5 separate regions of the Homo sapiens genome follow, and regions 2, 3, 4 and 5 are each linked to region 1. Evidence: fine-mapped expression QTL. A gene starts in region 1. Each other region holds a variant in brackets. All regions are shown on one strand. Distances are between the middles of the regions.

What was found. PIP is the estimated chance that this variant, and not a neighbour inherited with it, causes the effect.
Region 2: its variant is the best candidate, but not a certain one, in a credible set for the expression of PLXNC1 in cerebellum (GTEx, PIP 0.79).
Region 3: its variant is the best candidate, but not a certain one, in a credible set for the expression of PLXNC1 in whole blood (TOPMed, PIP 0.79).
Region 4: its variant is the best candidate, but not a certain one, in a credible set for the expression of PLXNC1 in whole blood (TOPMed, PIP 0.50).
Region 5: its variant is the best candidate, but not a certain one, in a credible set for the expression of PLXNC1 in whole blood (TOPMed, PIP 0.86).

Annotation. Positions count from the first base shown.
Region 1 is chr12:94,146,157-94,152,332 of GRCh38, forward strand. It overlaps PLXNC1 (plexin C1), which reads left to right and starts at 2,421. Exons shown (of 31, transcript NM_005761.3): 1 at 2,421-3,877. The coding sequence starts at 2,816. RefSeq lists silencers at 2,188-2,317, 2,328-2,577, 2,648-2,877, 3,008-3,247, 3,908-4,047 and 1 more and enhancers at 3,448-3,547, 4,888-4,947.
Region 2 is chr12:94,302,551-94,308,726 of GRCh38, forward strand. PLXNC1 (plexin C1) reads left to right here. Exons shown (of 31, transcript NM_005761.3): 29 at 1,206-1,346; 30 at 1,427-1,501; 31 at 2,631-5,125. The coding sequence ends at 2,735. It overlaps CEP83 (centrosomal protein 83), which reads right to left. Exons shown (of 17, transcript NM_016122.3): 17 at 5,148-6,176. Among named protein-coding and RNA genes, the nearest start is that of PLXNC1-AS1, 130 kb to the left of the region's middle. RefSeq lists an enhancer at 1,784-2,663 and a silencer at 3,278-3,377. The variant C/T (reference allele first, on the strand shown) is at 2,554.
Region 3 is chr12:94,124,957-94,131,132 of GRCh38, forward strand. LOC124902986 (a long non-coding RNA gene) reads left to right here. Exons shown (of 2, transcript XR_007063409.1): 2 at 908-1,514. Among named protein-coding and RNA genes, the nearest start is that of PLXNC1, 21 kb to the right of the region's middle. The variant G/A (reference allele first, on the strand shown) is at 2,952.
Region 4 is chr12:94,170,382-94,176,557 of GRCh38, forward strand. All of the region lies in intron 2 of PLXNC1 (plexin C1), which reads left to right. PLXNC1-AS1 (PLXNC1 antisense RNA 1) reads right to left here and starts at 6,082. Exons shown (of 2, transcript XR_007063411.1): 1 at 6,000-6,082. RefSeq lists an enhancer at 830-1,339. The variant A/C (reference allele first, on the strand shown) is at 3,259.
Region 5 is chr12:94,243,102-94,249,277 of GRCh38, forward strand. PLXNC1 (plexin C1) reads left to right here. Exons shown (of 31, transcript NM_005761.3): 12 at 837-924; 13 at 4,802-5,005; 14 at 5,126-5,311. Among named protein-coding and RNA genes, the nearest start is that of PLXNC1-AS1, 70 kb to the left of the region's middle. RefSeq lists a silencer at 5,578-5,778. The variant G/A (reference allele first, on the strand shown) is at 3,310.

The DNA.
Region 1 (6,176 bases):
ATGAACTGAGTAGTGATCAAAATGCCGCACCACAGAGTATGTTTAATCCAAATAGCTCCCAAGATGGTCTGTGACTGATTGTACCAACTCTACGGGACTTAGAGAAATGACTTGGTTACCAGTGAAGTAAAACTATCTCTGGAATGGAATTGAACTGTTGCTTCTCAGCACATAGCGACACTGCCACCGCTGGTTCACGGAGCCAGTGAAGGTCACTGAGTTCTGCATCAGTCACAGGGAAAACTGTCAAAACACCAGCGCATAAATCCCCTACTATGCTGTGGAGGGGGTCTCTGAGCTTCGGATGAGGTTTTTAAAATATTGATCTTCCCACTTCCAGAGGTGCAAAAATTCTGAAAGCATTCCAGGAGGGCAGGGAGTGGGGGAGCAAGGCCAGATATTTTGGAGCAGGTGAAACATCTGACTTGTCTTGCCTGAGATGTCCCGATTAACACCAACTGGGTACTTTAGGCCTTTCCCCTTCTTCCTCCCCTCTCCTTATGGACACTCCAACACCATCATCACAGCACAAAGGGCAACCTCATATCTCGTGGGAAGGCATTTTCTGCCTCCTGCCAGGCAAAGATAATGTTATCCAATTGCAAATGAAAGGCTTATGAATGAAAAGATGACCACTCTGACTTTAGTGTATGAGAGCCACTGCTGAAATGATAGGATCCTTGAACTTCACATCTAGAGCAGAAACTCACACTTCTCTTCTTCTCCCTCCACCTCACCCTTCTTTCCTTAAGCCTTCCAGAACTCCTGCCATATCCCTCAGCACTGGGGAGAACTTGAAGCACTGTTGGAGAAGTTTGAAACCTGCAACCTTCGGCAGGACTCAGCATGGGACAAAAGCCACCTCATTCCTTTCCCTTCCCAAAACAGCATCTCGAGCTGGGGAACTTGGAGGGAAGGAAGAAAGGGGATAGCAGCCAATTGCCCTCCCTGGGGCCTGGGGTCTGGAAATAGCCTGGGAAGGAACAGAGATCATTTCCCAACGATCCATAGAGGTCCTCAGCACCCTCCACTCCTATGCACCCCCTGGCTCATCTGCCAGACTGTAAGGGTGCTGATGGTGCCCGCAGCTGCCCCGGGAAGCTGGGAGGCATTTGTGCATCCTCTGGGAAGCCCCATTCCGAGAAATCATGAACCTATTCCCCAGTGGGCAATGATTCCCTGTGCTTCAGAAATTCTTGGCGGCTGTGGGGGCAACCCAGCTGTTATTCACCCTCTGGGTGAGGTGGTGAGACCTCAGGGGGTCCAAAGGATAAAAGTGGGTAATGATGAGACAGATGGAGAGCCTCGAGGGAAATACGGGGACTTGGGTCTAATAGTAGAAAGCAGGGCGGGGGCTGGTTGGTGCATTTAACTTGAGGAACTTTTCAGTCTCACTACAGAGAATGATCTCTGGGGGATTATGGCAATGGCCACAGGTGGCACTTAACTAGAGCCAGGTATGTAAGAGGCCCTGGGGCTAGATATGGATTCGAATCTCGGCTCTGATATCTACCAGCAGTAGAATGCCAGCACGTTCCACAACCTTTCTATAACCATTCTCCTGGACTACTAAGTAGGGATGACAATAACAGTCACTAATTAATAGGGCTGTTATGAGAATTATGAGTCTTAACCCATGTGGTGAGTTCACAAGCGCACCCGGCACGTAGTAAGTGCTCAGTAAATGTTAGCCCCGCTCATTAGGTTAGATGGTGAGCAGAACTTTCCAAGTGCTAGGCTTGAGAGCCTGGGACTCTGTTGCCAAGGGAGATTAGAGAACCTTTGCAAATATGGGCGCTCCGGCCCTGGGGATTGTCCAGAACGAGAGTGTGGCGCCTGCCTTTCTGCCACCTCACTCATCCGACCCGGGGAAACCCACACCCTGTCACAGGGGCGCCTTGGTCCCCGGAGTCTCCGGCTCGGCCATGTCTCCCGCGCGCCTCCCCGGGGCCTCCCTCTCGCCGCTCCACACCTGTCAGCCGCTCTCGCAGCAGCCCTGTGGCCCGAGCCCGGGGCCTCAGCTGCAACCCCTTCGCACCCTGGATCCTCGCTCCGCGCGCCTGGCGTATCCCCGACCCGGCTGCTGTCGTAAACAAAACCGGGCGTTGGAGCAGCACCGCGGGCGGACGGGCGCGGGAGCCCGCTCCGTGCGCCGTTAGCGCGCCCCGGGAGCCCCAGGCGAGCCAAGGGGGCGATGGTGGCGGCCGCGGCGGCCGCGGCGGGCGGCTGAGCTTTGTTATGAATAGATGAAAGAGGCCACCTACACAGTAACCCAAATTACGAGACCTCCCTCCTCCCTATCTCACCGAATCAAGAGGGGAGGGGAGATGGGCGTGGAGGGAGGGCGGGCGGGCGGGCAGGAGGCGGAGGGCGGAGGAGGAAGAGAGGATGAGGAAGGGGGCCAGTTGCATCCCACTTTCACAATGGGAAAGTGAAACGCACAAGCGCACCCAACCTCTCCAGCCCTCCCCGCCCGCCTCGCTCCTCTCCGCCCGTCCCCTCCCTTCCCCTCCGCGCCTCCCCGCGAGCGCCAGCGCTGCACACAGGAACTCTCCGGCGAAGGAGGGCGAGGAGGAAACGGTGCCGGAGCGCGCAGGGCTTGCTGCCGCCACCGCCGCTGCACAGGCTGCCGGAGCGAGCCTGCCGCGCGCCGCCCTCCCCGCTCTCCTTCCTGGGCGAGCTGCGGGGATGGGGCGGCCGCGGGAGCCCGAGCGCGCGCAGGAACCGCCGCCGCCGCCGCCCGCGTCTCCGTTGCCGCGCGCCTGAGCCGCCGTCGCCGCCGCGCGCCCTGCCCGGGGGCGGCCCCCCCAGCCCCATGGAGGTCTCCCGGAGGAAGGCGCCGCCGCGCCCCCCGCGCCCCGCAGCGCCACTGCCCCTGCTCGCCTATCTGCTGGCACTGGCGGCTCCCGGCCGGGGCGCGGACGAGCCCGTGTGGCGGTCGGAGCAAGCCATCGGAGCCATCGCGGCGAGCCAGGAGGACGGCGTGTTTGTGGCGAGCGGCAGCTGCCTGGACCAGCTGGACTACAGCCTGGAGCACAGCCTCTCGCGCCTGTACCGGGACCAAGCGGGCAACTGCACAGAGCCGGTCTCGCTGGCGCCCCCCGCGCGGCCCCGGCCCGGGAGCAGCTTCAGCAAGCTGCTGCTGCCCTACCGCGAGGGGGCGGCCGGCCTCGGGGGGCTGCTGCTCACCGGCTGGACCTTCGACCGGGGCGCCTGCGAGGTGCGGCCCCTGGGCAACCTGAGCCGCAACTCCCTGCGCAACGGCACCGAGGTGGTGTCGTGCCACCCGCAGGGCTCGACGGCCGGCGTGGTGTACCGCGCGGGCCGGAACAACCGCTGGTACCTGGCGGTGGCCGCCACCTACGTGCTGCCTGAGCCGGAGACGGCGAGCCGCTGCAACCCCGCGGCATCCGACCACGACACGGCCATCGCGCTCAAGGACACGGAGGGGCGCAGCCTGGCCACGCAGGAGCTGGGGCGCCTCAAGCTGTGCGAGGGCGCGGGCAGCCTGCACTTCGTGGACGCCTTTCTCTGGAACGGCAGCATCTACTTCCCCTACTACCCCTACAACTACACGAGCGGCGCTGCCACCGGCTGGCCCAGCATGGCGCGCATCGCGCAGAGCACCGAGGTGCTGTTCCAGGGCCAGGCATCCCTCGACTGCGGCCACGGCCACCCCGACGGCCGCCGCCTGCTCCTCTCCTCCAGCCTAGTGGAGGCCCTGGACGTCTGGGCGGGAGTGTTCAGCGCGGCCGCTGGAGAGGGCCAGGAGCGGCGCTCCCCCACCACCACGGCGCTCTGCCTCTTCAGAATGAGTGAGATCCAGGCGCGCGCCAAGAGGGTCAGCTGGGACTTCAAGACGGCCGAGAGCCACTGCGTAAGTCCTGCCCCCGGGGCGCCGCGGAGAGCGCTGCTGCCGGGGAGCCGCCGCCGCCGCCGAGGCAGAACGAGCTGGGGGCGAGCGGCGGGGCGGGGGTACAGCCGGGTGACATTTACCAGGTCTCAGGTTCACACCGCGGGCGGCCGTCCGAAGGCTCCTCTCGGACGGTCCCCGAGACCTGGAGCACGGCCTGAGGTCCCCAAAGGGAGAGTGTAAAAAGGGGGGCGGGGAGGGTTGGAGTTAGACTCAAAACTCTAGTGGCTGCATCCCATTGCCATCCTTCCCTGTCCAAACGGGGACGCTTGTTTGGGGCTGAGTCTCCTCGCGCAGCCCCTCTTTCCCATTCGCTTCTCCAGACTTCTCTGTGCCCCTTCCGTGTAGTCCCAGCAGGCGTGTGGGTCTGACCCTCTTGGTCAACAGTTAGCAACACAGTGCCCTCGGCAGAGAAGCCATTGAACCTAAAGGGCTCCCTGCCACACCCCAGCCTTTGTGGCCCCCTGTCTCCGCCCCCCACCGGCAACGCAAGTGCTGTGGTCTGAAGAGTTGCTAGCCCGCTCAGCGTGGAGAAATGCCAGCCTGCAACAGAGGCTTGCGCTGGAACCGAACCCCTGGCGTGAGCCGGTGCGAGGGGGCGGTGCCGTGGCTCTGCTCAGGGTGCGCTGTGGTCGCCAGCCGCCGGGAGAGGCTGGGCGGGAGGTGGCCTTGTGGTAAAAGCCTCATCCTAGAGGGGAGTGCAAGGGAAAGTGTTGGGGGTGCTACAGGCAGTTTCTGGGCTCCAGATTGCGAGACTAGATGGCGGGACTCAGAGTCACCACCCTGGGGCTGAACCAGGCAAGCGATACAGGTTTCCCCTGGGCTCCCAGGGCAGCCACAGCTTTTATCTTGAGATTGGCATTTCTTTGACTGGAAAATAAAGAGGCAGTTCAAGAGGGTCCAGTTGATGGGGATTATGGAGCCATTGTGCACTTCTCCGGAGGCCGTTTCCCTTCCAAGGCGGCTGGCACATCAACTCCACATATGGCTCCTGAGAGGGGAGCCTGCTGGGAGCCTCCTTTATAACTGGACAAAAATCAAAGCGCAGAAATTAACGGCTACAGGTGTTGCCATTGTTTTGGTACAAAATGAATCAGAGAGGAAGGGGAGAAGTCACTGCTTGGAAAATGTGTTGATACAGGGGCACGTTGGCTCCCAGGTATATTAATATGTGTATAGAAAGACAGCTTCCCCCACCCCCTTCTTTCTCTGCAAAGCACATCTTACCAAATATTAGCCCTATGAGCCAGGGAGAAAAAAACCAGGAGGTCTTTTGCAAGGCTTCTTAGAACGGTCACTTGCTGCTGCTTCTTTGCCTGTCAAGCTGTGTGCTGGGACACACACATTAAGGCCTTCATTTTGTTACTGGTATAATTTTTAAAAATATGTAAAAACACATATTTGCCTCCTAAATGACTTGCTGTTGCCGTACACATATAATGTAATATTTGATTCCTGTCTTTATTAGATCTTTATAATCTAACGGTTTAAGTTTGGTAAAATTATCGTTTCCTACTTCTCTGTTGAAAGACTTGAAAGTACCCCCGAAATATTACTTTGTGTCAAGCTTTAGACACACTTAGTCTCTGGGGTTAATGACAAGCCAGCTCAGAGGCCCACAGCAGGTAATGAGGGTGAAAGTCCAAGCTTTGCCATCTGACAGCTGTGTCGATGTGTGGAGCCAAAACATTTCTCTTGACTGCGTCTCTCTACCTATTGGGTCCTGGAAGACTCAGTTCCCTTCCAAACCCAGCCAGCATCTTGAATGCACTCAAAATCCACGTTTTGGCTCAATCAGGTGTTCCTGCTTGTGCCGGGATGGGGAGGGGCAGTGGCAGAGGAAGTCGCGGAGCTTCTGCGAGAGAGCTGCCCCTTGGAAATCAAGCAAAGGATAAACACATGCTGCCAAAAATCTGGAACTGGAAAAATAAATAATTAAAATGGGTCCCTCCACAGCATTTCTTGCTGCTATTTATCAAGAACTCCCAGTGTGCTCAGAGCTGTGTGTTCTGAAAGACAGGGTCTGTACCCCCTGAGCTTGTCAGCCAAGTTAAATAATATACTCTGGTTCAAACAATAGCATGTCATGGCTGCACAGGTGGGAGCTTGGAGCTTTGCATTTTTTTTTCATTTAAGTAAATTCCTTGCTGCTAGTATGCATTGAAAAGCCTTAATGGAATTGAATTTCAAGAGGAGTTTGAATGAAAAAGGGTGGTAGTTTTGATGAAAAAGCTGACAATTTTCTAACCTATTAAATAGGTAG
Region 2 (6,176 bases), 160 kb after region 1:
GTTCACACTAAAAACAGTTGTTTATGAATTATGTTCTTGACACACTTCACTTAATCCTCACAAGTACCAAATAAGGTAGTTATTATTACCCTCATTTTATAGATGAGAAAATTGATGTTCTGGGAGGTTACAAGTCTTGCCTGAAACCACACAAAGTAGCAGAATTATGATTTCTGATTTGTCCAACTCTTTCTGTCAACTACTGCTGCTAATTATTTGTATCATAGTAAGCACTTCATAAATCTGTCTTTGCAACTAGATTGTAAGCTTCTCAAGGGCAGCCACTAGTCTTTATCATTGTACTCTCAATGCCTGCTCCAGTGCTTAATAATGTTTATTGAATGAATGAATGATAGCATGATTTCTGGGTTCCACTTAAATTTGACAAATGAGAAAATCTCAATAATATCTCAGTCTCTAGGCATCCTTCAGAATGATTCATCAAGCCATTGATTCAGCCTCATGGGCTGGGACATTAGCCCTATCATTAACTTACCTATCTTCCCTGAGTAGAATTTTTTAAAGTTTTGTGAAAAATAATGATTTTTAAAAATAAAATCATATTTAATTTTTAAATATCACTGTTATAATTACGTAGAATCATTCAAATTGCCAGAGAACCTCTGCAAAATCACACATCAGAGCCACCAATACTAATGACCATGTGCTTCCCTGAAGAAACTGGATGATGTCTATAATCTAATGAAATAAAAGGGACAAGCTGGAAAATCTGCCTCTGCCAATTACTTACCAGTTTCATGGTTATATAAAGGGCTCAATCAGACCTACAATCAAGTCTTTTGTAAATGCCAAATTCACTGGTGGGTGAGGATGAGAGCAAATGTTTTAATTCAGGCTTTTTACAACCATTAGTAATGAACTATGATTGAAATAAGTTCCATTGTTACAGTAACTCAAAATCATGCAAAAATAATAATTTTAGTTCTTTTATGAGAGGAAGGCAGAATATATTAGCATTTAATCTGCCTGAAAATAACAGTGACTCACCAGAACTATCTAGATAGCAGTCAGTCATTCAGTCAACAACATTTAAGGCCTACTGCATGAAGCCTTGTTAGCAAGAGGTAAAACTGGTTGGTGGTGGGGGTTCAGCTACATTGGAATATTATAAATTCCTCCATCTTTTTTTTTTTTTTTTTTTACTCTTTTGGTGATGGTTGCTTTTTTTTTTTTTTTTTCCCCAGGAAGCACCAACTAATAAGCTTCTCTATGCCAAGGATATCCCAACCTACAAAGAAGAAGTAAAATCTTATTACAAAGCAATCAGGGATTTGCCTCCATTGTCATCCTCAGAAATGGAAGAATTTTTAACTCAGGAATCTAAGGTATCATTAGAAAGCAGAAATAAGCTTATATTTGGTTACTTTACGTCATTTCAGAATCTCTCAACAAGTCTTTCTTTTAGAAACATGAAAATGAATTTAATGAAGAAGTGGCCTTGACAGAAATTTACAAATACATCGTAAAATATTTTGATGAGGTAAGATTTTAAATAACATTGTTTTTAACCTTTGAATCAGGCACAAGGATGTGGTTATAGCATTCTGTCAGTTTCAGAACAGCTCTGGCATCCCAAAAGGCCAGAAAGGGAAGCCAGGAAGCCTGTCTGAGATGGGGGATCCTGGCACTGAGCCAGACCCTGTACATGGCTGCCCCCCTTACAGTTTTATCATGCTGCCCACATTTGGACCAGCCTGAATTTACATTTGAGTTCATGGGGCCTACAGCCACCCTGACTCAAGTTAACTTTGATGAGTAAGTAGTGGCCCTATTAAATGGGGTCAGCTTATGCTTGATTGTAATTTGCTAAAAATGAAAGCTAAGCTTGTTAAATTGCCTAGATTCTGTATTCAATCGTTATATGAAATTATGACATATTTCTAACTTAAGCGACTATTTCAATAAACCATTCTCCTTTATGATTAATTCTCCTTAATCTGGGTTTTTTTCTTTGGAAATTCAAACAGACACATTCATCAGATGCTTTGTTTCCAAACAAATGTTAACTCCCCCTTCCCTGATTCCCCCCCAATCATGCTGGGACAGGCTATCCATGTCAATGGTGAGAATAGCTCACCAATTCCATTTGCTACTTGAAGATGAAGTGAAGCTCTAAGGTAGGGTAGAGGCAATGAGTTCTTAAACATGATAAGCATCCCTCGTTCCAGGGGTCAGGGGAGAGAAGGGAAGCACGAGGAGGGACTACACTGCCCAGATGGGAGGGAAGGGAAGGATCTGTCTCTGACCAGGATGTCCCTGCCTGCTGCATTTAAGGAGAAATACTTGCCTGCATGTTGGCTGCCCAGGAATGCTTGCTGTGCTTGGAATGGCTGTGACATAATGCATAAAGCAGGGCCTAGGAAGCCTGGCCCCATATTTGTAAGCAAATAGTTGGTATTTCTTGCGAGCTTCTATTTTAAGCCAAGGTATTGTTGATCCTGTGATAAGGACTTAGCAAAACAACTTGCAAAGTGAGTATGTAAATGATGGAAGAAAATGTTGGCATCTGTTTCATACAGATTTTACCACTCA[C/T]AGCATCAGGTATGCAAAAAACAGAATTGTAACGCTAAAACCACAATATCTAAAATAACTGTTCTAATTGTCAACAGATTCTAAATAAACTAGAAAGAGAACGAGGGCTGGAAGAAGCTCAGAAACAACTCTTGCATGTAAAAGTCTTATTTGATGAAAAGAAGAAATGCAAGTGGATGTAAGCACTCTGGGGCCTGGCTTAATCTGGCAAAGTTCTTCAGACGACTTGGGAGCAAAATGGCTGCTTGAGCTACTCTGTGTCGTTAATTTGTTGTTTGCACATAGGTTCCACTTTGGGCACTGTCTTTTTAAGAGACCAAGGCACATGCACAGCTTTTAGAAAGCATACCAACCCTTGTGCCTGTGTGTATACCGTGGGAACCCTTCTGTAAATAGAGTTGAAGTGGTTGTTGCAAACAGCCTCCTTGTTTACAGAGAATACAAGGCCAGTAAGCGAATGTCAGTATTGTAACTACAGTCTCCACTTAAGCACAATGATATAAGTGGTTTTGTTTGAAAACTACAGCTATGTAGCACTTGTGCTACACTGCACCTCTGCATTGTAAAGGGATACTGCCAGTGCTCAAAACAAAATGTGAAATGAGTCATTTGGAAACAAGGTGGGGGTGTTAGGGCAACCTCGAGGATTTGCAGCATTGAAACTTTCCCCAGTAGTTCTTGGAAAAGCTGACCGCAGAATTTGGTAGTGTACACTTAGCATTTGTGAGTGTGTGTGTGTGTTTAAACCAAAAACTAACAGTGTTGCAACATTGTTGAAAGGGCTCGTGTTTTTCAGTGGTCATCAACTGCACTCCATCAAACTCACCTCCATTTCACCAAGGAGCTCTAAAGTAAGGAGAGTGGGCTTTATTTAAATGAACAGCATTTTAACCAGATACTTTGTCCTAATGTATGTTCCTTTTCTTCATCTGTTTTTTCATACTAAATGTATTTGATAGTGGACATGTTGGATATTATACAAAAAAATCATTAATTCATTTCTGTTCCAAAACCTTTGATCAGAACGATCTGTGGAAGAGTAACTCCATTTCTATATGAGTGAGTGTCTCCTTGCTTTAGATTTCTGGTGAACCCTGTGGTTATGAATACTTGTGTGTGATTTAAAAAAAAAAAGATACATTTTACATTTTATCGAATTGCTGTTCACACTGGAGTATTATATATAAATATATATATTTGAGGCCCAAGGCCTGAAAAATATTAGTATACAACTTGGTATCTTAGTCTTACTATGTACTTTTTGAAAGTATTCCTCGCAGGAGAAAGAATTTAAAATACCCATTTTATTCATGCCTTTCTTTTTAAAGAATTCTCTATCCAGTTATACTGTAGTCTTTTTAGTGCTGATTTTTTAATTCCTGAATTTTTGCTGCTCATGACCAGTTTTAATACCACTGTGTTTTCCTTCTATTAAACCAGAAGAAGTAAACAGCATAATTGGCAACTCTTGAGCTTTTCTTGTGGCAGGCACCTTTTACCCTTGGTGCTCCAAATCCCCCATCTAGGAAAGAAAATTTTTTCAAGTCAAATAACATTGATCACATATTCCTTGAAATCATTTACCAACACTGTATGGAGCATTAGGATTTAAATATGAATTTGTCTTAAAGGCAATTCCTTTTTGCTTCTGTATTATCTGGAAAAGCATGAGAGAGGTGACACCTCAACAAACTGATCAGAGAAAATAAGCAGTTACTACCCTGATAGGCACCTTCCCAATCCTGTTGCTTTTGACCATTGTCTGTCCAACGGACACACCTCAAACAAACAAAACTACCAAATAGATGACAGATCAGAATAAAGGTGAGAGGTCTGGTCCCCATTGAAGGCTGCTACAGTCTTCAAAGAGGTGAAGGAGTTCATAAGAGAACAACAGTAGGAAAGTTGAGAGCCAAGGGTAGGAGAGTTGCCCAAAAGACTTCCCCTACTACTTTAGGGTACTGAAAACTCAAAGGATCAGCTACAGCTTTATCTAAGTATTTACTAAATGCTACATGAGGGTGTCCCTGTCCAGCTTTCTGGCACATGAGTCCTGTGTGGAGAGTTACCTCCTCTTCCAGGGACTGTGCTGTTGGGAACTTTGGGCAAGTCACTTACCTCTTTGTGCCTCAATTTCTGTATAATATTTCTAAGCTACCTCACTGAGGTGGTATGAAGATTCACTAATGTATGTAGCGTGTTTGTCAATCCTCCAGTGAAAAGCACTATCTAGATCACATTTTGGATCACATTAGCCAAATGCAGTAAATGGCCAAATTAGATGTGTGCTGAAGACAATCAGTCACTGGGTCTATATTAAACAGCAACCAGAGCAACAAATGGCAAACAATTTCTATTTTCAAGTTTCTTTGCATATTTTTTTGGTGCAAAACCATTTATAAACTTTTTTTTCTAACACTAGTGTCTACAGCAGCATTCAAAAAAATTCTGTTACCTTTTCTGTATTAGGATTTAAAGTCTATTTCTTATTGTATACCTGATTGAAGCTGTTCTTGGAGATGAATGTTTTAAATGTCTATATCCAAAAAATAAACATTTTGATGTAACTGTGGACTGTCTTTTTTTTTTTTCAATTTTCTAGTTATAATAGTTTTTTTATTCTAAGTGGCTCCGTGGAAATTATTTTTCAGAGATAAGGTGTCACTGTATATGCTGTGAATAAGCAGCTATATTATGTAGTAAGTAAACCTAGTTTGCTAAATGGTGCTAAGGACTGCTCAATTACAGTCCTGGCCTTCTTCACTATCAACTGGGACTTTTGACTATGAACACCTTGGGATAATGAACATTCCACTTAATTTGGGAGACTTGAGCTTTAGCCTCGTTAACATGAAATTATTCCAGCAGAATTCCTCTAAAAGATGTCACATTAAAAAGGCTTCCAATGGGTGTAGACCAAAAAAAATGAGAGCATACTTAGGGACACAAAACACATAATTATTTGGTTAGATCCACAGTAATGGGAAGTAAAGTTAAATACCAACAATGTTTATAAAAGGACCTGAGTTCAAGTTTTATAATCAATGGCCCCCTTGTTAATACAGCCATAGGATTTAATTATTTGCACTTATTCTCTATTCTAACAAAGCCAAAATCAGTAGACTGTCATATTGCTAAATATATGCTATATGGTTGATGTAAAATTAAACACACGATTAAAAAAAAATTAAGCTCTTTAATTATGTGCACACAGATTTTAGAAAAGGTAGCCTTTTGTATATAGATACCTTTACATTCTTTAGGCTGACTTTTAAATTGTCATCTTTTTTCAACTACAGTTTTTGTATATAGTAAACCAGAAGATGTGTATGGACCCTGTTATGGCCAAGCATCTCAAAGATGAAGAGAGAATTAATGATAGTTATATTTCACTCAAAATGCCAAAAAAAAAAATTCAACAAAGTAAAAATTTTAAAACTTGACTCTAACTAGTTCCTTTTTGTTTTACATTCTCAAACCATTGTCAAATATTCTAAATATCTCTGAGAATTTCTCTTTTAATGCTTCACTTGTATAATCTTAAAATCCTGACAGTCATACAATACAGCATGTAGTAGGTACCTTTTCTTGAGGCACATTCAAGTGTTTTGGCAAACAGTAAA
Region 3 (6,176 bases), 21 kb before region 1:
ACTCAGCACCACACCTGGCATAACTAACACTTCTCATGTGCCAGGTGCTACTGGAAGTGTGTTATGTGCATTAACTCATTTAATCCTCATAACCACCCAAGGATGGAGGGTCTATTCATGTCCCTATTTCACAGATGAAGAAACTGCACAAGTCACTATGCAATAATGGCCACGATTATTATTGGAATTAGTAATTTCATCAATAATAGCACAGTGACAATTTTCAGACTTCTGGCAGACTTAATTTTGTTTATTTCTGACCTTTACACTGCTCATTGAGAGCCTCTTTAGTAGACTTCTTCCGTGTACTTTGCAAATTGTAAAAGCTTGTTTCTTTTAAAAAATCCATTATTAATGTTATTGGTGGAAAACTTTTTTAACACTGCTGGTCAGGCTTTATAGAAAAATCCCTTTCTGTATCCTCCCTCATCAGCAATACTTCTCCGAATTCCCTTCGATTCAGCAAAGGTTTATTAAGAACCTGCTAATTGCCTGGCATGACTCTGGAGATGCCAGCTCCAAAAATTCAAAGTCAAGGAAAAAAACCACACAAATAGCTGTAATAGAATAGGATATAGGCTCTGCTTGTCTTATAATCAAAATACAAATGCAAGTGATTGGGAAAAAGTATGATCTAGAGTCAAGGAGACAGCTACCCAGAAGGTGTTTTCTTAGACTTACTTTTTTTTTTTTTTAAATAAATATGTAAGTGGTCAAAAGCCTTTTTAATATGAAGATGTGATAGCTCCATATTTTATAATGTGTTGCCCTCATAAATTTGGTCTTAGAATTGTTCTGTTTTGTTTTTTCCAAATCCCCCGGTTTTTTCACTAATGACGACCTACTGTTTAGATGTAGATTGTTCTATTGTCGAATGAATTTTACCTTTTTTCCTTTTAATTTACAGGTATGAAAGCTAATCTTTGAAGACACACTTAATCAGCGAAATGGTGATTGTTGAAGGAGAATTGTGGCCTGATGCGCTAATTTCTAAGTTAAAAAGGAACATCATTTTCGCAACAATAAAGTAGTGATCTGCCCTTCCACGCAGTGTTAAGACACTTCCCACAACTCCTTCACCCTTCTCATTTAGGTAAGTACTAAAATAAACAGGAAAAGGGAACTGTACCTCTTATACCTATGCAACTGGCCCAGTGAATTGATTTCAAGTTTGCATTTGTGAGAAAAAAAAAAAGATGACTTCCTTATTTATATTTTAGTGGGCACAAAATTCCCCTTCCAGAGAGCCCTGTCTTTATCCCTCAGCCATTTTCAAAGAGCACTTTCATGCAAAGAGCAAACAGCTTCTCTAGGCGGAGAGTTTGAATTTCCTCTTCCTGAACCATTTCCTATATCTGAACTGCCCACATCTTATGGGGCAAGAACATCACAAGAGGATGTAAAGGATCCAGCAAGCTACTAACTCAGCAGACAACACAATAATGCCAGTCTTAGAGAACTAAGTGCTAAGGAGAGTTCATGGCAATGAATTCAATAAAGGTCTTTTCCAACCAGCAGCCTGATAGGACCCTTTCTCTCTTCTTGTTGTTGAACCTATCTATATAAGAACACATTTTTTTAAAGATGCATGATATAAATTGTGATTTAATTGCTTGAATAGGTGGGACATGACCTCCCAGAGCTGTGTGCATCAATGTCAAGAAAACACGTAGGGGCCCTAGTTCTCAACATGGTTGCCATGTGGTAGAGGGACCTCATAACAGCAGTTTCTAACCTGGTCTGTGAACTTGGATGGCAAAATAAAATGACATCTTTATTTTCTCTTACCTCTAACTGAAATTTAACATTCCCTGCAATTACAAATATAGGCAACAAACTAGAATAGTATCAGTAGCACCTGTGACTTTTTGTCACCAAGAGAAATCACACATCTTTCAAATCGCATGACAGTTGTTGCAGCTATCTTGATTTATACTTATTGTTACTTCAGATAATGATTAAGTATTAGAGATGTTACTAGTTTTTGTTATTTAAACTGTTATTAAATAACACTTTACCATGCCATATTTTAAAAATTATTTTGTAGCTGTATTTCAACATAGTTTACAGCTTTTGTAATTCTATTTATTATATTTTTATGCATTTTAAAACATTCTGAGGAAAGTCCATAGATTTCACCACACTGTCAAAGGGGTTCATGCCCCCCGCTGCCATGTTAAGTATGCCTTAGGAGACTCTCAGTATTGACCCACTGCAAGCACAGTTTCCATGCAGTGAAGGGCTCGAAAATGATCCATTTAGTGCATTTCACTGTGCCTTTCATACAGTTTTAGTTACCTCTTTTCCAATAACACATCTTATCAAAAACCTCAAATGCAGTACAATTGTAAAATATGGAATCGTTTGATCTTCAAATCGCTGGTTAAAACTGCATCAGCTTTCAGCTATTCAAGAGCTGACTATCTAAGCTGTGAATTATCAAGGTCCCCTTTTCTCCCTGGTTTCCTCTTTGGCTGTTTACCATGTGGTTCTTTTACTACTGGGTCACAGGTGCACCAACAGATAGGCAGGGCTCCCCGAGGAAATGACATTCAAATCTGACAATTTTCCTACATCACTAAGAAGTTGTGGACCGGTGGAGGTTGAAAGTGTTGATTAAATTAAGGCTTGGAATTACCTGTGGATTTTAATTACCATTCTACCACTGTCCCAGTGTCCTCTGTCTCCCCACCGCCACGCTCTCCTGTAGCTCTAATGAGACACTTATCAGATGCTATTTTTGTTTGTTAGTTATCTTTGCTCTGCATACGGTCTTCCCACAGAAACTGTGTTCTCCTTCTCTTGTGTTGCCCCTGGTGCTTGGCAGACAATAGATCCCCCATAAATAGGTGTGGCTGAACTGAATCACTGTCTATGGTACATACCCAGTGGTCCTTCATGGTTGAAGATGTCAGTGCTAACATGATGATTTTCTATATTGGATTTCTTAC[G/A]TCTATTTGGATTTTATTACGCAACATTTCTTCTACAAATGCTGAACACTATGTACCAGGCATCATACTAGATATTAGAGACAAAGATGAATATAATATGAACTTCCTTCAAGGAGTTCTGAGGTCACAGGGACACTAGACAAATACATATCGCGATGGAGTGTAACAAGAGCAAGTGTAGGCATATGGACTAGGTATGTCGGTGACACCCAGAAAGGGCTGGTCATTTCTGGAGAATGAAAATGAGAGTCAGAGAAGATGCTGGAGTGGGAACCCAAAGCATGGGTTGGATTTAGGCAATGGCAAGAGGGACGGGGAGAATTCCAGCATCAGAGAACTGTGACTCTTTTAGGATGTAACAATACACAAGCATTCTTTACGTACCGGACACTCATTTCTTCCCTGCTAAGAGAACCTAGTTGTGTATCTGGGATAATCTTAAGGAAGGTAAGTTCCTCCTCCAGACTTGGGCTTATGAGCCAATCATGAGCCAATTATGGTCATTCTTTTTCTCTTCACCAGACATTGGTATAGTGTGGGCATGTGACCACATTCTGGTCAATGACGTCTAAGGGGGAAGTCTGCTCAGGGATTTCTGTTTGGGCAAAAAAAAAAGACAGAGTCTTGCTAGGAGAAAGTAGCCTTCCCCTCGTTTTGAAAACAAATACAATGTTTACAGTTGTGGCAGTTATCTTGTGACAGGAGAAAGATATTAAAAGCCTGGAGGGGCTCTTTAATAGTAACACTGAATAGCAACCAGTACTAGCAACTGGGCTCCTTCTTGTGCAAGAAAAGATTAACCTCTACTTGCCTATGTTCTAAGTAATTAGGGGTTTTTTCCCCTTATAGCTAAACACATCACAACCGATGTATACAGCTTCTGAAAACTATTTTGCACAGGTCTCCCCAGTGGGTATCAATGGGGTCACAACTAATACCCCCTGAGTTTTTCTGCCTGATTATCCCTAACTTGTATAACTCTAGGACTCAACCTCTTCCTCCTTCAATCTCTCCAGTCATTTTGGGGAGTCCCCAGGGGAATATCTTTGAGAATGTAGCTTCTTCCCTGATTCTCTCTATCCTCCCTTTGATGCAAGGAGAGTAAGAAAGCCCTTCTCTCTGACTCTGTGTTTCACTCTGCCACTAGACCCGAAGGTGAATGGGTCTAGCTCCATTCATGGAATGGGACCCCAAGATAAATGCCCTGAATGTCATCAACTTTTGGTCAGCGTATACCTTCTAGCTGCTGACTACCCCTGCTCTCTATTAAGGAATGTCTGAGGAATAGTAAGCATACTAATTTCATCTACTTTCCTTTGTGTCTTTCCATAGAAGGCTAGCATCAACCTCTTCCTTTAGACAGACCAAAACAGCAACAATCATCTGCAGGCTTATCAGCCTGTGCCAATAGATCCCCAGAGTTCAGATTAGCTGGCCCCAAGGAGCTACTCTTCATCTAGCTCAGCCCAGAGCCCAGTCACATGTGCACATGAAGGAATGGAAGACACAATATTGCAAAAATGGTCAGGCAGGGACCTTATATATCAAGCTAAGAAATATAAGCTGTATCCTCTAAGTCAGGGCTTCCCAATAAGTGTTCCATAGAGTGTTGAGATACTACCCTGCCCTCTCAGCCCTTGGGACTGCTGGGTGGAACCTGACAGAGGGAGCTCCTAGGCTGGTCACCTCTGGCAGCCAGTGCCCTTGTTTGGTGTAGGAAGGTATTGCCAAGAAGAGTGGGGCCCAATGAAGCCATGGTATAAAACAATTGGGAAACAATGGGGAGTCATTGAAGGATTTTTAACAGGAAGTAATCCCATCAGCTTTCCATATCGGAAGACAATGAAAGGGCAATGCAAAGGCTGGGTTGGAGGAGGTGGGCAATGAACCTGGGACCAGGACCACCAGTCTCACCTAAAATAGCCTAGTGATGAAATGATGAGAGGGCAAGCTAAGGAGTAGGAAAGAGAGAGGAGGGAGGATCTGGGAAATAAGAAATCTTTTTTTTTTAATTATACTTTAAGTTCTAGGGTACATGTGCACAACATGTAGGTTTGTTACATATGTATACATGTGCCATGTTGGTGTGCTGCACCCGTTAACTCGTCATTTACATTAGGTATATCTCCTAATGCTATCCCTCCTCCCTCCCCAACCCCACGACAGGCCCCGGTGTGTGATGTTCCCCACCCTGTGTCCAAGTGTTCTCATTGTTCAATTCCCACCTATGAGTGAGAACATACAATGTTTGGTTTTCTGTCCTTGTGATAGTTTGCTGAGAATGATGGTTTCCAGCTTCATCCATGTCCCTACAACTCATCCTTTTTTATGGCTTCATCCATGTCCATGAACTCATCCTTTTTATGGCTGCATAATATTCCATGATGTATATGTCCCACATTTTCTTAATCCAGTCTATCATTGATGGACATTTGGGTTGGTTCCAAGTCTTTGCTATTGTGAATAGTGCCGCAATATACATATGTGTGCATGTGTCTTTATAGCAGCATGATTTATAATCCTTTGGGTATATGCCTAGTAATGGGATGCTGGGTCAAATGGTATTTCTAGTTCTAGATCCTTGAGGGATCGCCACACTGTCTTCCACAATGGTTAAACTAGTTTACAGTCCCACCAACAGTGTAAAAGCATTCCTGTTTCTCCACATCCTCTCCAGCACCTGTTGTTTCCTGACTTTTTAATGGTCACCATTCTAACTGTTGTGAGATGGTATCTCATTGTGGTTTTGATTTGCATTTCTGTGATGGCCAGTGATGATGAGCATTTCTTTCTTGTGTCTGTTGGCTGCATAAATGTCTTCTTTTGTGAAGTGTCTGTTCATATCCTTTGCCCAATTTTTGATGGGGTTGTTTGATGGGATTTTTTCTTGTAAATTTGTTTAAGTTCTTTGTAGATTCTGGATATTAGCACTTTGTCAGATGGGTAGATTGCAAAAATATTCTCCCATTCTGTAGGTTGCCTGTTCACTCTGATGGTAGTTTCTTTTGCTGTGCAGAAGCTCTTTAGTTTAATTAGATCCCATTTGTCTATTTGGCTTTTGTTGCCATTGCTTTTGGTGTTTTATTCATGAAGTCCTTGCCCATGCCTATGTCCTGAATGGTATTGCCTAGGTTTTCTTCTATGGTTTTTATGGTTTTAGGTCTAACATATAAGTCTTTAATCCATCTTGAATTAATTTTTGTATAAGATGTAAGGAAGGGATCC
Region 4 (6,176 bases), 24 kb after region 1:
GTTTCCAAATATGATCCTGTTTCCACACTTGCTCACACTGTACCTCCAGCCTGAAATGCTTTTTTCTTTTTTCTCTTATTTACGGCACCTTATGTGTCTATGCTGTGGCTCAGCTCAAACCCCACCTCCTCTTTGATGACATCTAGGCCTGGAGTGACCTTGCTCTCCTCTCATTTCCTGAAATACTCATGATCTATGTCATTCTTGTGGCTCATTCCAAATGTCTTGCCTGGAGACCTCACCTTTTCACTGGTGTCTGTCTTGCCTTCCCAACTTGATTTTAAGCCTCATGAGAAGGGGGCCATGAATTCCCACAGCCTAATACAGTGCTGAGTGCCTGGTAGGCATTTGATTTAATCTGTTTTCTTTGGAGGAAACCCAGTAACATATGGGAGGGAGTTTGTTTGTATACACATTCTTTTAAAATATACATTGATCATCTTTCCTGTTGTGTTAGCTTTATTTCCTGGGGAAGGGTAAATACCCATCCATCATTCTACACAAGTCACTGGGTGACGTCTGTAGCTCCACCAACCTGGTCAGGCTTATTGGACCCATTTGCCTGGCGGGAGTTTCCATCAAGCCTTTCTGGGCCTCCTCACCAATTATCTCTTCAGATTTGGGATGTTTTTGATGAGTGTTTTGACAAGAACACTGTTTCCCCAAAGCCGAGCCAACCAAACCGCTACATGGTGAATTGGAGGTGAAGGAACACTCGTCTATAAATAGTTCCCCATGGGATGGCCTGGTTTTGCCTGTCCTGTGTGTTCACCCAGCAGCCTGCATGCCGCTGGCCAGCTTTTAGCGATGTTGTGGCAACCAGGGAGTGGACCAAGCTGCAGCTTCATGCTGCTGAGGAGGCCGCAGCCGACCGAAGTCTCGCTCTCCTCAGGATCTGTATGGGGTACCCATTCAGAAGCCACCTGTGTGGCCTCGTTGTTTTTTTCAAGGTTTGAATAACAAAGGCAGCTTTTTGTTGTTTGTTTTGTGACTGCTAACATTTACACAGTGCTTCCTAGATGCCAAGGGACTCTATATCTTCTACCGAATTCAGTCCTCTCCATGACACAATGGGGCAGGCCTACTATTCCCATTTTACAGATGAGGGAATCGAGGCCCAGAGAAATGGGATGATTGTTGTTCAAGGTCACACAGGGGCAGAGCAGGGATTTGAACCTGGAATGACTTCAGAGACTGCACTAAGATCCCCTATGCTGCACTGACTTTGCAACCTCTGCCGCACACATTGGTACTACTCTCTGAGGATTCCGGGGGCACATGGGAGACATGCAGATAGGGTTCCATGCCGTGGCTGGGGACACATGCTCCTGGGGTGAGTCAGCCTTCCTAGAGGCTCAGGAAAGAGTCCCAGCTTGAGAATAAGGCGGACCATCTGACTGAGGAAATACCTCACTGGCGTGGTAACTTCTTGGGAATTAACACCCACCCCCCAAGCCCCCAATAAGAGAGAAGTTCTCTCACTCAGGAGAAGGGTGTGAGGGATGAACTTGAGCTGACTTGCCCCACCAGGCTCCCTAGGGCAGCTCAGTAATGCCCAAGCCTCTCCCCTGTATCCTGTGTACAGATTCTTGGATGTAGCCCCTGAATTTACCCAGAATCCTGAAGACCCAGGATCGTGTGGATGATTTGGAAACTACCGATAATCCTCAAATCCCTTTATTCAGAAGCTTTCAGCTTCTCCCTTGCCAAGGCTTGTCACCAGAACTGTTAGAAAGGATGAACACTGATAGACACAAGCTTGGCTCCTTAAGCCACAGCGTGGGGGAACTAATGAGCGGCAAAAAACAAAACTCAACCCAACGCAGACAGTAGGAGGAGGAGAAGAAAGAGGGCTTGGATCAGCCACAGCCTGACTCATCAGTTTCTGAGTGATCATGAGTTGACGGCATTTTGACATGTGCCAGGCACTGTTGTGTATACCTTGTTGAATGAGAGTCAGGAAACAGCAATTGGGGCCCAACTGCTGTTTTTTACCACCACCAGTAAAAACCTGACTTCTTAAATCTCTGCAAATCCTGTGAGTTTTAATATAATTTGGTGCAATTTTAAGCCTCATGTTATTTAAATAATTTTTCCTTATTGTAAAGGTAATATATGCTCATGTAAAAAGTTGCAGAGTCGTCGGGGGTGAGAGGACAACAAAGAAAAAATTACCCCTAATCATGTCATGCAGAAGCAACTGCTGTCAGCATTTTGGATTCTCTATTTATGTAGTTGAGGTCAGGTTTTGCATCCTTTTCTTCAGTTAGTGAGGGAAAATGCTTACATTAAAATGTTATTGCAAACCCTTTGTAAAAAGTATTTTTAAATAACTATATCATATTCTATTATTTGGGTACATTATTTTGAACTTAAGCTAAGATACTGGATCACTTTTAAAGTATCTTTAAAGACATGCATTTTCCAAGGAAGACGGCATTACCTCCAAAGGTAAGATTTCACTGATAATCTGTGAAGAAACTAAAGGCTACAGTATGCCAGTACCTTTACTGTCCTCCTTCTCTTGCCTATAGACCTAAGTCCCTTTATAAGATTTTGGGGAAATAGAAGGAATTTAGAGCTCAAAGGGTCCTTTGAGAGCATCTAATCTGCTCTTTTATTTTATCGGTGTACCGTCCCATGGTCGTGAGGTGAGTTATGTCTAGTCACCCCCGCAGTTATTTCCCCATCCTGCTTCTTTTCGGAACATGATTGCATGCCGGGTTTTTTTCAGTCGTCAGCATCTCCACTGAGATCAGCTGAAAAGTATGGTCACACTGAACTCAGCTTTGGGGAATTCACACTGCACGTGTTGCACAATGTATGCATTTCTGTAAACACACACCGAGTCTTTCTCCAGATTATAGTACAGCCTATCATGTGGTTTGGATTCCTTTGAGCTGACTCTGTTGCCCATAGAAAATTGTCCTTATTTCAAAGGCAGAATTGCATATTTTGAGCTTTTCCAGGTGGTAAAGTAAGTAATAACAGAATATGCATGAAATTTGAAATTTGTAACTTTATGCATGCCCATTAACCTTCGTGTAAGCATAAAAGATAAGAAGGCAATGGGCAAGGAAGAATAATCGCTAACATTTCTGAGCTCTTCCTGTGTGCTGGGCATTAGAACCAGCATCTGCACGGGTTAACTGGTTTAATCCTTACCAGTCAATACTCTCACCATCCCCACTTTATAAATGAAAAAACCTGAGGCCTCGAGAGGTTAGGTATCTTTTTCAAGGTGCTCTGAACCAAAAT[A/C]ATCTGTCCCAGAGCCCGAGCTTCTATCCCCCAACTAAACTGCATTAACTCTTACAGAGCTTAGTAGAGTTTGAGAGCTGGTTTTTGTTATATTTCTTTCTAATACTGGGGTATAAGGGTTGATACCAAGATGCAGATGTTTGAGGTTTCATAAGAAGGGGCCGAGAACCCTGTGGTTTAGTTTGTTCCTATTTGGGGATGGCTTCCTGGCAACCCAGCTGAGTGCAGAGCCCGCTCCTCTCTGAGCTGCGCGTAGTCCACGGGGGTCTCTGAATCTCCTTTGGGGCCCCAGCTTTACCCCAGTGGGCTCCTTTGTAGGAAAGGTAGGAATTCTGTATTCAAGTTGCTGTTTTGAATGGTGTCAGCAGTAAAGACTAGTGTCTCCCCGACCTCCCAGGGACTGCAGTAGGGTTCAGGATACAGGAAGCTATATCACATAGCTCTATCCTGTCCCCATATCCAGTCTTGAGGTATTTCCTATGTGCTTGGGCTCAGACTGGTTACCTATGTGGCCCTCTACTCCCACTTAATGGCTTTCTTTTGTTTATTTTTTTTTCTTTTTTGAGCCAAGGTCTGGCTCTGTTGCCCAGGCTGGAGTGCAGTGGTGCAGTCTCGGCTCACTACAACCTCTGTCTCCCAGGCTTAAGCGATCCTCCCACCTCAGCCTCTTGAGTAGCTGGGACTACAGACCTGTGCCCCCACACCTGGCTAATTTTTTTGTATGGACAGGGTTTTGCCATGTTGCCCAGGCTGGTCTCAAACTCCTAGGCTCAAGAGATCCTCCCACCTCGGCCTTCCAAAGAGCTGGGATTACAGGCATGAGCCACTGCACACGGCGCCACTCAGGGATTTCGTTTATTCAAATCACAGCAAAATTAAACCGGTTCCAAAAAGTTCTGTCTGAATTCAAACAGAAGCAAAAACTCTGTACTGCCTAAAGAGTCTGCCTTGACTCTGGTTATTGAAGTTTTTGAATGAATGTCAGAGAAAAAAATCTTTTGTAAAGGCAAGCTGTACTATATACCCAGAAGATGTTCAAATAAGGAATAGGAGAACTTGGGGAACCTAGAACAGGACCTGGGACCGGAAGTGGTGGTGGTGGTGGGGATGACTGAGCTAACAGACCAAAAAGTTAAAACAGGAGGAAGTGTCAAAACTTGGAAGTGGGTTCATTGGTTGGCTGTTTAGGATGTCATGTGAAGCCTGCTTCAAGTTCTCCCCACCTCATTAATTGCAATTTATGAGTTTGCAGGGACTCCCCAGTTTGAAACTTTTAGTCCCATATAATCCACAAATCTAGAACCTGTGGTTCAGACTGTATGCTTCTCTTACTACCTACACTGCAATAAGTAGATTGGAAACAAAAGAGAAATTTGCCTTGATCTTTATATTTCATCTTTGTTACTCCTAACTACTGAGGCACATTAAATACTTACCTTGCTTTCTCCTGTGTGTGCATGTGTGTGTGTGTGCACGCATGCACAGGCATGCACGTGTGTGTATATGTATGCAGGCATGCACGTGCATATGTGTGTGTGAGCTTGTGTGTGTGTATGTGTGGTTTAAGTCTCCTTCCCAGCATTTCTCAGAAACTGCTTATGGAAAAAAATAATAATAAATGAAAGGGTTGGCTTGTTTGCCCTTCAACTGGTTAGCCCCACAGAGTGAGGCATAGGAAATTAAATTTGGCATAAAATATTATAGCTTTTTGAACACCCGTGGCTTTTCCATCTCATGGTAATCGTAAAGAAAAAAAAATAGTTTTTTGTTTAATTTTTCTCCCCCCTCATTTTCCTCACCATGATATCCTTCCTGTGGGTGATCTTGAACCTGTCTTACAATTGTATGGTGTTGAAATCTCCACTCAGTTAATTTCAGCAGTGTAGTTGGGAGTTTTATATGCAACAAAAATCCCAAGGCTCGTTAATAGTCTACCATGAGGCTTCAGGAAGACATCAACAGAAACAATATGTTGACACGAACTGAAATTCTCCATCAGAGAAAATTTGTTTTCTACACAGGCTTCAGCTGGAAAAAGCTGAAGAGCCCTATAAAATCTTGAATGCTAATAGCGTCGTTTTTCATTTAATAAATATCTACTGGGCACCTTGTATGTGCCAGGCACTGTTCTGGGTGCTGAATATACAAAGGTGAACAAAACAGACAATGCCCTTGCTCTGCTGGTGGGAAGAAAAAGACAGAAAACAAGTAAATGGATTAATCAGCGATAAAGACACTTCAGATAGTGCTATGAAGAAAATACAGTGATGGGTAGAGAGTGACAGAGGTGTTCAGCGGAGAAGTGATCAGGGAAGGCTTCTCAGAGGAGGTGATGTTGGAGACTTGAAAGATAAAGGAGTATACAAGCATACACATGGAGAAGGTTCAGATTGACTTCAGATTAGATCTATATTAAGGTCGTATCCTGGAAGATAAAAATCCACATCGTGCCCAAGGATTGTGTGTGTGAATTGGATGAGATTTCTCTTATGCAAAATTCAACCCGTTTTGGGTTTTTGTGACTCATTGTTACTTCCTGCATTGCTTCACTGATCATGTTCTTTTTCCGAGGCTGCCCACCTAAACTGAGCTGAGGAAGGAACGTTTCCCTTGCTCCAGTCTTGCTGGCTTTTGTCTGTGTGTTGATATTCTCCTGAAGTTTGCAATTAGAAAGTCCAAGTGTTCCATTAGTGCCTGTGGGCTGGGGCTCGGGCTAGGTGAGAGATGATATGAACACTGACCTGTCCTTTAGTCATCTGAGAGAGATGAGACTCCAGGGGCCACGGAAGCAGAAATCCCTCACCCCTCTGTGTAGCACATTTGGGACCTTTGTGGTGAAAACTAAAACTTCCTCTTGTCCTGTCCTCAGGATTATGGAGAGCATTGTTTGCATAATCTAGCAAAAAGAAAAACAATTT
Region 5 (6,176 bases), 97 kb after region 1:
GAGGCCAACTCAGCCCTTCCCCATTGTGGCTGGAGGATTCAGAGATCAGTGTCTTCTCTCTGCCCTACACAAATTGGGTTGCTCAGGCCCACCTCCTGGTCTTGTCATCAGGGGCTCAGCTGGCTGTTGGACCTGACGTACCCAGGCTCTTGTCCCCTAGAATGAGTGTCTGGTGACCTACGTGAACAGGGGTGCAAGGGCAGACAGAGCTGTGGACAGCTGTTTCTTTCACACCCAGTGACCGCTTTGCTTATATGCACTGAGAAACGTGAAGTTATTTGGCCTGGTTTTAGAGAGATGGAATGCAGCTGTTATTTATACGGCGTACCAAATAGGAATTTACACTTTGCATGTCATCTGTAATTCTACCTTGCCCAAAGTGTTTCCTGTCTCTCTAAATAACATACCATTGGTAGGTTAGGAGTTTGATTTTGAAAATTCTTAGATTGAAGTCTCTTTATATAGATTAAACAGTAATCAAACAAAATTCTGTTTAGTGAAACCTTTTCAAGGTACAGCTCCTGATCTGATTATATGTGGCGATATGACACAAACAAAATTCAAATTCCATCAAAGAATCTGGGCATTTTCCTAGAATTAAAATAGGATCTGACCTGAATTTTTATATTTATGCATCTTGAAACCCATGAATTTGTGGCTGGTATCCTGAAAAGATTCCCAAAATTGTCCTGTATTTGAAATTAAAATTCATTAATTTGCTCTCAAACATAATTGGGTTTAATATTAAACATGAATAAATTGATAGCTTTGTTCATAAATGCAAAATGCCTGTGTGTTAGCTATGAAACCCTTATTGTTGCTTTTATTCCTTGCAGTGGTGGTCAAAATATAACCATGATGGGCAGAAATTTTGATGTAATTGACAACTTAATCATTTCACATGAATTAAAAGGAAACATAAATGTAAGTCTCCAGCTGCTTTGTAATAATAGTTGTTTTCAAGGATGGTTCTATTTTCATCACACTATGCTATGTTGGGGGTATTTTTTGTTTCTGTGACTTTGGTGTTATAAACTTTTACCTATGCTATCATATATTCTATCCATGCTAGAATGGAAATAATAAGACCTTATCCTTGTAGCTGAGTATTTCTAGTTGCAGCAATGAGGAAAGAGAAATGAACTTGGTACGATAAGACCTGACATTTTCTTTTTATGTGATTTGTGGCAAGTCACCCTAATGAGGCAATGCTTATGAATATGTGTGAAAATGCTCCGTGAATGGTTAAGGTGTGATATAAAGAATTGCATTTCTGTGAAGAGTAGGTGGTATTGTTCCCATTGCACAGAGAGAGTTGGGTTCACAGAGGTTAGATGACTTGCCAAGGTCCCAGAAATCTTGTCATGTGCTTCTCCTTCTCTTCGACCCAATTTGTTCCCTACCATCTGATGTCACCTTCTCTTACCTTTCGTCTCCCCACAGGAGAAATGGTAGGAGGGGTCTGGTTTCCACCTTTGCCCGATTCTCCCACTGGTGCCTCCAGATGGGGATCCTCTAGAGCAGGGGTGTCAACCTTTTGGCTTCCTGTGGCCACATTGGAAGAAGAATTGTCTTGGGCCACACATAAGATACACCAACACTAACGATAGCTAATGAGCTAAAAAATGGTTTGTGCATAATTTCCGTGATATCCACCACCACAGATAAGCAAAAAAGTCCTCACATTCAAAAGGCTGGACACGGCTGCTCTAGATGGAAGCTTCTGATGCCAAGAGGGGAGATGAGGGATTTCACATACAAGTCAGGCCTCCAAGTGTACTTGCACACACTTCTAAATATCCTTCCCCATTCTTTCTTCCCCTTTTTCCCTCTCCTTGATGAGATATGTGAGGTGGCTGCCTCTCTGGGGCCCTGCCTGACCACTTCCTGCCAAGGCTGACACACTCCCTCCTCAGGAGCAGTGTGGGTTCAGACCCAAATTCCGGGGGCCGCCTGATAGGCCGTCCTTACAGCCTTGTGGTGCACACATTCACCTGCTGACACAGTTCAGAGCCACTTCCAAGCCTCACACTGTATCTGACTCCAGGCCTCATCTCCATGGTGTGAACACCTCCAGTTGAATGGCTCGTATAGTTTGACCCTCTGAGCAGAGGCATTACCTGAGTTTGTCACGGACTTGCTCTCCCTCCTACTTGCTGTTCCCAAATCAAGTTGAATTTTTTGAGCACCTACTGCAGGCAAAACATTTTGCTGGGTGCAGGGACAAAAGATAAGTGAGATAGTCATATTGCCTTCATGGAGGCAGGCAGCAAATCTACATTGGGATTGAAAGTTGAGGCTGGGTGTGGTGGCTCACGATTATAATCCCAGCACTTTGGGAGGCCAAGGCGGGAAGACTGCTTGAGGCCAGGAGTTCGAGACCAGCCTAGGCAACATAGTGAGACCCCCATCTCTATAAAATAAAAATTAAAAAAGTTGACAGCACAGAGTATCATCAGGTTCTAGGTCCTCTGGTTCCCTAACTGTTCAGAAACCCTGTGAGTCCAAGAAGACACCATTTCTTTTCACATTAAAGAGAAATTAAACATGCATGGGATTAAGTACGCCTGCAGTATGGAGTGGGGTGGGTGGAAGCAGGGAGGTGAGTTCAGGTACAGAGGACAGAGTCCTCGCAGGCCCGTGCTGGGAACATCACTCAATCCTGCTTAGTGGGAACCTAGAGGGTGGGTCTGGAATGACCAAGAGCGATAGCTGTAAAACTGAGCTGGGGCCACAAAAAGCAGCGTCAGACTGAAAACTTTGCCCTTAATTCTGTAGGCAGCAGGGAGCCACTGAAGATCTCTGAGCAGGAAGTGACATAGGTCTAGGTACACTGGACTCACACTGGACCGAGACAATTAGTGACAATGAAAGCAGTCAGAAGGTTACCAATGGGAAAAGAGACTATGCAGAAAGCAGTAGACTAGGGAAAGGGGAGGATTCTGACCCAAAAGGCTTCGGTGTCCTGTCTTGAGTCCTGGGAAACCACGAGAAAAGAAGAGAGTGTCCAACCCCCAGCAGGGGCCAGCTCCTGAAGTGCTTGTTGCCGCTGAATCACTCTTTGTTGGGGAACCTCCTGCAGGGCGGTTATTATTTTGGCAATGGTGCACAGCTGAGTTTGGAGAGGCAGGAACTGAAGAAAGGCTGGGAGCCCAGTGAGGATGCTCATGCCAGTGCAGGTGTGTCTGAGACGTCCACAGTCTCTCTGGGCTGACAGTAGCTCCCTTTGGGCTGTGGTTAGCAGAGCAGGTCTCAAGTGCTGGGGCATCGTGAAGCTAGAGATGACCAGCTTGTCTTTATAGCAGTATC[G/A]TTGAAGGGAGAGTGGGGGTGACATCATGGGAGTGAGAGCACAGAGGAGGAAGAAAAGAGCACCTAGGACTGGTGGCAAAGCTTCATTTTAAGGAATGACAGACAGTAGGATGGGCCGTGAAGGTGGCCGAGAAGGTGCTCAGAAACCAGTGAAAAAGAGTAAATCGCATGGCGCGAGTTTGTCACGAGTATGGAACTGTAGAGTCTTGAGGATAATAGGGTTGGGTGATCCTCTCACCTGCAATCCTTCTAGAAGGCATCTTCAGTAAAAAGCCAGCCTGCTAGGAGTTAAGGCTGCTGAGGCAGTAGAGACAGTGGTTTTCATCCTGAGGACAGAAATGTGAGCAGGAGATTCAGGGCTATAGTTTGGAAAGATGTGAAGGGAAAGGAAGGTTGTGCTTGTCCAAATCTCAGCTCTTTACATCATATTTTCCCACCAATTGCCTCTTCCTATTGTCTTTTTTATGCTCTAGTATCAGGGGGTGGCGGGGGTGGGGGAAAAATAGTTTTTCCCACCTGATAAATTTCTTTTTATGAGTTATAATTGCTTTTCTGTAGAATGTTTGCCATCCTCCCCTAACCCACCAGCCTCCTCTGCCTGTCCTTCTGTACACCTAAACAGGACAATATATTTATGTTATGTATTTACTAACTTTTTAAATTTTATTTTTTATATATATAGAGAGAGACAGGGTCTCACTGTGTTACCCAGGCTGATCTCCAACTCCCGGGCTCACGTAACCCTCCTCCCTCCGTTTCCCACAGCGCTGGGATTACAGGCGTGAGCCACTACGCCCAGCCTATTTATGTGTTGTTGTTTTTTTTTAATCCTGTAAATCAGGCCACCTTTTTTGCATTGTTTTCAGTTTTCATGCTCTTCATTTCATGGGAGATGCATTGTTCCTTTTACTTTTGTTTTCTCCTGTTTTCTGTTATGCCTGAAAACCCTTGTCCTCCTTGTGTCTAGTGACTTCTGCTAAGGCCCTGCAGGAGGTTCCCCCAACAAAGGGTGATTCAGCTGCAACAAGCGCTTCAGGAGCTGGCCCTTGCTGAGAGTTGGACACTTTTCTTTTCTCGTGGTTTCCCAGGGCTCAGACAGGCTGACCCCAAGGACACCTAAGCCCCTTGGGTCAGAATCTTCCCCTTTCCCTAGCCTACTGCTTTCAGCCTAGTCTCTTTTCCCATGGCATAACCTTCCAGCTGCTTTCATTGTCACTCATGATATTAATCATAATATTAACTAGCATGTTTTGAGTGCTTACTGTGTGCCGGGCCCTGATCTAAGCATGTATAATCTCAGTTAACGTAGCCCTCATTTAATGTAATGTAGGGTGAAGTCAATCCTGTGAGGGAGGTAGTTTTGCTGTCTCCATATTACACATGAGAAAACAGAAGCACCAAGAAGTTAAGTTGCTCAGGTCACTTAGCTCTTAGAGATCACAGCTGGGATTCGTTAACAAAGTTACTAAAACATTCTTTTCTTTTTGTCCAGGTCTCTGAATATTGTGTGGCGACTTACTGCGGGTTTTTAGCCCCCAGTTTAAAGAGTTCAAAAGTGCGCACGAATGTCACTGTGAAGCTGAGAGTACAAGACACCTACTTGGATTGTGGAACCCTGCAGTATCGGGAGGACCCCAGATTCACGGGGTATCGGGTGGAATCCGAGGTGGACACAGAACTGGAAGTGAAAATTCAAGTATGTTTCTTTTCTTTCTGGGTGGGATGTCACCCCGACCCCTTGACTGGAAAGGTGTGTTTATGCTCGTGAGTTTCTACATGTGCTCTGATTTCTCCATCTTCATTTTGTTCTTTACAGAAAGAAAATGACAACTTCAACATTTCCAAAAAAGACATTGAAATTACTCTCTTCCATGGGGAAAATGGGCAATTAAATTGCAGTTTTGAAAATATTACTAGAAATCAAGATCTTACCACCATCCTTTGCAAAATTAAAGGCATCAAGACTGCAAGCACCATTGCCAACTCTTCTAAGAAAGTTCGGGTAAGTGACCTGGCAGTCCCACCTGCTGTCTTTACCTGATTTTTGTGATAATTCCTTGGCTAAACCAGAGGCCAGAATGGAATCTTTCATGGATCTTCAGATCCTCACTTTAAATAGAAGATAAACAAAGCTGGTACTGCGAGCCCAAGCAAAATAGCTCCAAAATAGCTGGCTGAATCCATCCCTGTGCCTGTTCGAACGTCAAAGCGTTGGACACACCATTGTCTATAATCCTAATGAGTCTTGATAGCTTTTGTTCTAGCCACACATTTATACAGTAGGATCGGCAAGCAAAATCTCTAGACCCATTGACAAATGAGCTGTCACTCTTTTCTCAAATGCGGAGGTGACATGTCTTAGCAGAAACCCAAAACAAACAAGGGCCTCTTCAGCACACTCTGGGTAGCATTAGAATCAGATGGAGACCAGATAATCTCTGGGTCATGGGCTGCTTCCTTCACCATGAAGTCATACTTTCTGCGATTAATCTTTTCCCAGATATGTTTGGGGGACGGATCACTGCTATATTTATATCCCATAATAAAGATGTGAGACCACTGAGAAGGGAAACACATTAGAAGTCACCCTTTATAGTATTCATGCCGTATGAGGCTCTGTACAGCCTATATAAATTCTTCTTGATCTATCATCATAAATAATTGGATAAAAGACAATGCAAAAGAACTTCAGACTGGAAGGCAACAACAAAAATGTGTTCATGTCCCACTGGCACCAGTTAATAGCTCTGTGGCCTTAGGTAAATCACTTGAGTTTCCTGAGCCTCTCTTAGTCCATCTGTATGATAAATGGGGTTAATAATAAGTTTTATTTGTTTTTTTAGACAGAGTCTCACTTTGTTACCCAG